Linked DNA regions of Homo sapiens: region 2 is linked to region 1. A link means that fine-mapping ties the variant in region 1 to the expression of a gene that starts in the linked region. Tissue or cell type: whole blood. Region 1 holds a variant in brackets; the other region holds the start of a gene. All regions are shown on one strand. Distances are from middle to middle.

Evidence for each region. PIP is the estimated chance that this variant, and not a neighbour inherited with it, causes the effect.
Region 2: C2CD5 starts here. The variant in region 1 is fine-mapped to the expression of C2CD5 in whole blood (INTERVAL, PIP above 0.99).

The regions. Positions count from the first base shown.
Region 1 is chr12:22,620,439-22,624,833 of GRCh38, reverse strand. ETNK1-DT (ETNK1 divergent transcript) reads left to right here. Exons shown (of 4, transcript NR_135030.1): 1 at 1-161. Among named protein-coding and RNA genes, the nearest start is that of ETNK1-DT, 2.4 kb to the left of the region's middle. RefSeq lists an enhancer at 1-18. The variant AT/T (reference allele first, on the strand shown) is at 2,209.
Region 2 is chr12:22,542,809-22,547,203 of GRCh38, reverse strand. It overlaps C2CD5 (C2 calcium dependent domain containing 5), which reads left to right and starts at 2,662. Exons shown (of 27, transcript NM_001286176.2): 1 at 2,662-2,884; 2 at 3,025-3,143. The coding sequence starts at 3,054. RefSeq lists enhancers at 2,532-2,761, 3,902-4,395 and a silencer at 2,902-3,021.

The DNA.
Region 1 (4,395 bases):
CTCTCCGAACTTGGCCTGAGTCTAGGCAAGCAGTGTTACTCGGTCGCCTTGATCTTGGAGCTGCTGTGTACTGGGGACCTCATACTAGTTGGGTTAACTATATTCCCATTAGCAGTACGCGGGATCGCAGTACTCGGGACAAGCTGAGTTCAGGTATTTGGGTAAGACAACTGCAACACTTCAGAGGTTATTTGTGGAGTAAGATGTTCGACCATACAGTGAATAATTCGAAGCTAGGGAGAACAGATTAGAGTCTGGTATGAAGAAGAAAGGGAAGGAAAGGAATAGTTTTGAAGCTCAGCGCTAGAACGACTCGATGTCCATGCCAGGGTACCCCGAGTGGGCCTTGAAATCTTGCGTCTCAGTGCCTTACAGGGAATGGTAGAAACTGGAAAATCTACAAGTAAAGTATTGGGACCTCCTAATTTTCCTTTTAGATGGAGGAAAACGGGCTGGGATTCCCTGCAGCACTTAGCACACGGTGAATACGTTTGTTAGTAGTAAATAAAACCCTTAACTGGACTGAGTTTAATTAACATTCAAAATGTTTAATTACTTCACTAGCATTAAGTTTACATCCTGATTGTTCAGAAAGAACCTACTTACCTTTGTAATTAACAAAATAATTACTTCACCGATAACGGTAAACTTCCTAAACTAAAAAGAGGGGTGGAAATGGAGCTTTATAATACAGCAAAGAAGTTGATTTAACATTTTTCAAATTTAGTGGTTTTTTTGTTTGTTTTTTGTTTCTGTTTTTTTTTGTTTTGTTTTTGAGACGGAGCCTCACTCTGTCGCCCAGGCTGGAGTGCAATGGCGCGATCTTGGCCCACTGCAACCTCCGCCTCCCGGGTTTAAGGGATTCTCCTGCTTCAGCCTCTCGAGTAGCTGGGATTACCGGCGCGTGCCACCACGCCCAGCAAATTTTTGTATCTTTAGTAGAGATGGGTTTCACCATGTTGGCCAGGCTGGTCTCGAACTCCTGACCTCAGGTGATCCACCCACCTCGGCCTCGCAAAGTGCTGGGATTACAGGCGTGAGCCACCGCGCCCTGCCAGATTTAGGCATAATTTTCTACAAGAAACATTAGAGTGTGTGTTCCTTCCACTTTGGGGAGAAATCATAAATATACTACTACTTTCACATTTCAGATAGTATCTCTTGTATTTTTGTATAAATTGTATTTTTTATTAAGCAGTTGACATTTTAAGAATTTTAAAACTATGTAACTGTAAAACAATTTAATTGAAAATTATGTTGCAAACTGCACTAGTTTGTAATGGTAAATAAGAGTCCATTAACAAGTAGAAGAAAAGAAAAAAAAACTATTAGGTACCTGAGAACAAAAGTAACCGAAAATGTACAGGATCCATGGATAAAATTAATGGAGAAATGAACCATATTCATAAATGAGAAAAGATTAATGTAAAGGCCTCAATTTTCCCTGAACTAATCAGTACATATAATGCAATTCCAGTTAAAATCTCAAAAGGGTTTTTTTACTGAACTTGTTAAAATGACATTGAAATTCATATCAAAACTTAAGGTCCAAGAAAAGCGCTGTAATTGGGGAGAGGAGGATAGGGACAGGTAAGATCAGGGAATATATTGGGAGGACCAACCCTACCAGGATGTATTATATATTGGTTTAGGTATGGGCAAATAAACTACTAGAACATAATAAAGTCCCAGAACAAAACCTACACACATATGAGAACTTTGTATATAACAAAAGTAGCATTAAAAATTAGTGAGAAAGTCCAGACTGATCAATGAACCGTAGTGATACAATTGCTTTTTGTATGAGAAAAAAATTTTGATCCCTCCCTCTTATTATGCATAAAAATTAATTTGGGGAAGATTAGAAACCTAAATGTTAAAAGCAAAACTTTAAAAATGTGCAAGAAATATCAGTTCTTATCAACCTGATCTACTGATTCAATTCTAATCACCTCAAGTTATGTTGTGGATATCAGCAAACCAGTTCTAATGTTTACATGCAAAGCCACAAGAGCCAGAATAGCCAATACAATATTAAAGAAAAACAAAGTGAGAAAACAGACAGACTTGAAGACAGTATAGCTGGGTGCAGTGGCTCATGCCTGTAATCCCAGCACTTTGGGAAGCTGAGGCAGGAGGTTCGCTTGAGCCCAGGAGTTTAAGGCCAGCCTGGGCAACACAGTGAGACCTCATCTCTCCAAAAAAAAA[AT/T]TAGCCAGGTGTGGTGGTGCACACCTGTAGTCACAGCTACTCCGAGGCTGAGACAGGAGGATTGCCTGAGCCCAAGAGATTGAGGCTGCAGTGAGCCATGATCAAGTTACTGCACTCAAGCTTGGGCAACAGAATTAGACCTTGCCTAAAAAAAGAAAAAAAAATAGTATATGTTCCAATAATCAAGACAGTGTAGTATTGAAGCCAAGGCGAGTGAATCACTTGGGGTCAGTAGTTTGAGACCAGCCTGGCCAACATGGTGAAACCCTGTTTCTACTAAAAATATAAAAATCAGCTGGGCGTGGTGGCAGGCACCTGTAATCCCAGCTACTCGGGAGGCTGAGGCCGGAGAATCACTTGAACCTGGGAGGCGGAGGTTGCAATGAACCAAGATCACACTACTGCACTTCAGCCTGGGTAATAGAGTGAGACTCTGTCTCAAAACCAAAAAAAAAAGACAGTGTAGTACAGTGTAGTATTCTCAAAAGAATAGAGAAATAGATCTATGGAACAAAATAGAGTCCAGAAATAGATCCACACAAATATAGTCAACTAATATTTAATATTTAACAAAGGAAAAAGGCAATTCAAATTTTCAATAAATGGTGCTGGAACAACTGGAGATACACTTGCAAAAAAAAAAAAAAAAAAGAAGAAGAAGAATCCAGACACAGATCTTACACCTTTCACAAAAAGTAATTTAAAATGGATCATAGACATAAATATAAAACACAAAACTATACAATTCTTAGAAAGCAACATAACAGAACATCTAGGTGACTCTGGGTTTGGCAGATACTTTTCAGATGCAGCACCAAAAGCACAACCCATGAAAGAAAACTGTTAAGTTGTACTTCATTAAAATTAAAAACTTTTGCTCTGCAAAAGATAGTTAAGATAATGTAAAGACAAGCCACAGACTGGAAAAAATGTTTGCAAAACATATTCAATAGAAGACTTCTATTCAAACTATACAGAGAACTCCTTAAACTTAACAATAGAAAAACCCAATTTTAAAATGGGCAAATGATCGGAACAGATATCTCATCAAGAAGATATACAGATGGCACAAAAGCATGTGAAAACATATTCAACATCTAAACAATGAGATACCATCACATATCTATTGGAACAGCTGAAATCCAAAACACAACCAGCCAAATGCTATGAAGATGTGAGGAGGAACTATCATCACTGGTAGGATGCAAAATGGTACAGCCACTTTGGAAGACAGTCTGGCAGATTCTTACAGAGTTAAACATAGCCTTACCATACAATCTAGCAATCATGTTCCTTGGTATCTACCCAGATGACTTGAAAACTTACATCCACACAGAAACTTGCACACTAATGTTTCTAGCACCTTTATTCATAACTGTCAAAAATTGGAAGCAACCAAGAAAATAGGTGAATGTACAATAAAAACTGCTACATCCATAAAATGGAACATTATTGAATGATGAAAAGAAATGAAGGACCAAGTCACAAGAAGGGAAGAATGGAGCATAGGAGATTTTTAGGGCAATGAAACTATTCTGTATGATATTATAATGGTGGATACATGACATTATAAATTGGTCAAAACTCACGGAACTATGCAATACAAAGAGTGAACCTTAATATAAACTATGGACTTTAGTTCATATTTGTATTTTTGTCAATCCACATACTGCCTTGCAGTAGTAGCTAATAAATGTAAATTAATAAAAAAGTCAGAAAATATAGGATCAGATCTCTATGATTGCAAGTTAAAGAAGGATTCCTAAACAGACTCATAAAGCACACACTATGAGGGAAAAGGACTGATAAATTTGAAAACATTAAAATTTGAAACCTCATGACCAAAAATACCATGAAGATAAATGACAAGCCATAAAAAGATCAGATATTTGCAATGTGTATGATCAAAAAGTATTTATACTCAGGATACTACTAATAAATAAGAAAGTTAAACCACCCAGTAGAATAACTGGCAAACAAATAGCAGTTTGAAGAAAAGGAAACCCAAATAGCCAATAAACTTTTGAAACTATACCTCCCTAATTGTAATGTCTAATAATTAAGATAATATAAATTAAAATAATGAGATACCATTTCACACCATTAGATTGGAAAAAATTTTGAAGTCTGATAATGCCAAGTGTACATTTCTTGTGGAGAAGTAAATTTATTTGTAAAAACTTTGG
Region 2 (4,395 bases), 78 kb after region 1:
TAAAATGCAAAAAGAGTGTCAGGGTATGAAGCTAAACAAGGTAATCAGGAGTCACATCATGGTAGATTTGTCAGAAAGTTAGCACTGTTCCCAGCATTAATGAAAACAAACGAGAACAATTATTAGGAAACAGTTCAACTGAAGTCAGGCTTAAATCTACTAAAAATAGTTTTCAGGAAGCATCTTAATTATAATCTCTTGTTGATGAAGCCTAAGGCAACAAGTACGTACAAGTACCTCAAAGTCTACTAATTAGGAGGCTGAGATTGCTAACCTCTAATTGTGCAATTTGCAACTTTTTACATTTTGGAACACAATGCATTATTTTCCATTAATATTGGTGCTAAACTTCAATTTTCTAATATTTTTTCTTTATACATTTCATATTTTAAAAAATGAGTTGGTAATACGGTAATACTTCGATTTCACCACAAAAACGACTTCAACTCTACCACCCAAAACAACAAAAAACACTGATCATGCCGGGCAAGATGGCTCATGCCTGTAATCCCACCACTTTGTGAGGTCAAGGCAGGAGGATGGCTTAAACCAGGATTGAGACCAGCCTGGGCAATACAGGGAGACTCCATCTCTTCAAAAAATTTAAAAAACTAGCGGTGCATGGTGGTATGTGCTTGTAGTCCCAGGAACTTGGGGGGCTGAGGTGGGAGGATCGCTTGGCCCAGAAGATTGAGGCTGTAGTGAGCTATGATCATGTCACTGCACTCCAGTGTGGGACACAGAGTGAGTCCCTGTCTCTAAATAAATAAATAAATAAAAAACGTTGATCACATAGTGTAGCCAACCTTCAGAATTCTGGCAAGGGTATTTTAAGGGCAGAGTCAGACTCCAGAAAAAGCTGCAGGTGGACCTAAGGAAATTCGCATGGGATCTATGACCCCTATTCCTTTGACATAGTTTGAATTGATAAAAGTTTCTCTAGTCCAAAAAGCAAGCGATTTTTTTAGATTTTTATTTTGAGGAAGTCGTTTTCTCTGTAGGAGTTCAATTTCTCACTTATGTGAACAATATTCCTGCCATAGAAGGAATTTTTGTCATGAAAAGATAATTCGGGATCACTACTGTTTGGAGTATTTACTCTATTGAGTATTTTCGAAGTTAAAAAGATCATACGGATATCTTCACTTAGGAATGAAATGTTACAATCTTTGAGCCGGCATGAACTCTGATTTTGTTGATACTGGGTATACTGTCAATGCTGATTTTGATATTTGGTAAGGACTGATTTATTTACATCTTGTGTGTGCCTCAATTTCCCTAATATGGTCTGAGCCTGTAGATAACACCTTACTTTATTTATAGTTGGGTCAATTCTTCAAGATGTTTAACGCTCTCCATGTTTATTTCTTGTGGTTGACTATACTTTCCATGGTAGGAAGTCCTGAACTTCTGCTACTACTGTAGGTCTTATCTTTAGGCTTGTGGATGCTTAATAAGAACACTGAGATGATCTAAGAGTGCAGGACATTTAATTAAAAAAAAATTTTTTTTAAGAGACAGAGTTTTGCTCTGTTGCCCAGGTTGGGGTGCAGTGGTGAGATGGCAGCTCACTGCAGCCTCAAACTCCTGGGCTCAAGCAATTCTCCCAGATTCTCCCACCTCAGCTTCCTAGGTAGCTGAGACCACAGACGAGCCACCGGCCCAGCTAATTTTTGCATTTCTTGTAAAGAAGGGGTCTTACTGTGTTGCCTCGTCTCCATGAGGCTGGTCTCGAACTCCTGGACTCAATCGATCCTCCCACCTCAGCCTCCCACAGTGCTGGGATTACAAATCTGAGCCACCACACCTACCAGCAGAAACTTTTTTTCAAGAGGAGACTTTGGATTTCAAGGTGACCTCCCCCACCCCGCCCACAGTAATATCTGTGACCCAGTGCACAACACAAGTGCCTATGACTGAATAAAATATTTCACTAAATATTTATTTCACTATTCGAGATGTGCCTGGTATCTCTATTTCTTTCTTTCTTTTTTTTCTTTTTTTGGAGACAGAGGAGTGATCTCGGCTCACTGCAACCTCCGCCTCGCAGGTTCAAGCGATTTTCCTGCCTCAGCCTCCTGAGTAGCTGGAATTAGAGGCGCTCGCCACGACGCCCAGCTAATTTTTGTATTTTTAGTAGAGACGGGGTTTCGCCATGTTGTCCAGGCTGGTCTTGAACTCCTGACCTCAGGTGATCCGCCCGCCTCGGCCACCCAAAGTGCTGGGATTACAGACGTGAGCCACTGTGCCTGGCCATCTAACTCTATTTCACAGAAAACTGGAACCACCACACGCACCTGTACCCCTTCCAAGTAGAAACCAGCTAATTTGGTTTTACGAATCACTAAAGGCCGACTGAAAACGCTCTTCTAGCAGTCTTCGCTGCTACTCCATCTATCACAGCCCATCCGAAAAGCGGCGGTAGCAGCTGGGAAGGCCGCGGCCGGAGGCTGTCACAGAGCAGCACTCGCGCTTCGGCCCGCAAGATGGAGCGTTTCCCTCCAGGGAAGCAGCGCCGCACCTATCCACAGCCCCCACTCGGTGGATGATGCAGGACTCGGCCCATTTCCCTGCCCTCCAGCTTTCTCAACGTCAGCCCCGCCCCCTTATCTTTCCTCGGCGAGTTTAGTTTCGCCCCGCCAAGTGGGCAGAGCGCCGAACGATCGATGCTTTCTTCCGCGCCCCGAGAGCCGCCATTTTTGAGAGCGGGGGAGGAGAGACAAGCAGGGGCGGCAGAGGCTCAACGGGATGCTGACTGGGTTTTGCTTTTCGTCCCAGCCTTGTGGGGCCGGGACGGAAGAACCCATCAAAGCCCTTCCTCCCGCCGCCTCTCCGGAATGAGGTCTCAGCACCCGCGCGGGACAGCACCCTTCCTCCTGCGACAGTGAGTGGCGACCCGTGGCGCGACTGCCGGGCGCCCGCGCGCGCCCCCGCGCGCTCCTTCGCTGTCAGTTACCCCGCGCGCCTCCGCCCCTCTCCCGCCGGCCCCGCGCTCGGCGCAGACTCGTTTGTTTGTTTCTGCAGGAGCCCAAGAAGAGGCCGAAACCGAGACCATGCCAGGGAAGCTGAAGGTGAAAATCGTGGCCGGGCGCCATTTGCCAGTGATGGACCGTGCTAGTGACCTGACTGATGCCTTCGTGGAGGTTGGTGCAGGGTCCTGCCCCTCAAAACACAGGGAGCGCCAAGCCCTGTGAAGGATCTACCCACCTCGCCCCCAGCCCCTCAGCCTATTCCCCCCTCGACTGCCCTCCCTTCGGCCGTGGTTGTCCAGCTCTCCCACGAGGGATGACCGCCGAGACCTCAGTGTGTGCGATGGGTGCACGGCTTGCAGGCGTCCGCGGCACAGTCCGCTGCGCGGGGAGGCTTGTACTGTTGTGCATGCGGGGGTGACCCTGATGTCAGGACTCATTAACAGGCCACCTGCCACTCAGGAGATCCCAAGGCGTGGCCGCGCAGCCACCGACACACTCACACACATACACACACACACACACAAATGCCGGAATGACTCTGATGTCAGGACTCATTAACAGGCCACCTGCCACTCAGGAGATCCCAAGGTGTGGCCCCGCAGCCACTGAAACACACACACACACAGGCACACACACACCCTTGGAAGGGGTGGCCAGAGTGCTGGACATCATGTTTAAGAAGGTGCATGAAGCCCTTTATGGGCACTTGGAGTCCCACAGTGCGAGGAAATCCACTCTCATGCCTAACATTTTGTGAATCTGCCATGCACGTTCTAAAACACAACTGCAACACTTCCTGCTCTTGTATAGGCTGGTAGGTCTGATGAGGTGTTTCAGGGTAATTTAGCGCCTTGAGGTAGGAAGTCATTTAATTGCCATGGACTTAAATTGCAAAATTGCTTTTTAAGTCTAATGATTAGTTTAAAAGTCATGCAAATTAGTAAAGGCCTACGGCCGGAAGGTAATAACCCAGAGTCTGAAAGAAGCCAAGTAAAGATTGTAATAAAAATTGGCGTGATGAGCCAGAGCATTAGAGCAGCAATCATTTGGGCTATTAGTGCTTAGAATTGATGGATAGATATATCATAATATATAGCTCGATTTCATCTCAATATTCCTGATGTTTCCTAAATGTTCTCTAACCGAATAATTACAGTTCACTGCCTCCCCTGCCCATTGTCATGGTGATTCTTAATCACTTCATTTGAGAAAGTTCTTGAGTGCTCTTGTGCCAGATGTTAGGTGATAGGAATCCACAAATAACTAAAACATAGTGTTTGCTTTCCGGTAGTTCAGACATTGACCCACACAGCCTATTTAATAACTAATAGGTAACGTGTTGAATTTAATAATTGCCAGATCTGTACTAAGTACTTTTAAATTCTTAGTTTTCACAACAGTCCTGCTATAGGAGTATTGTTAT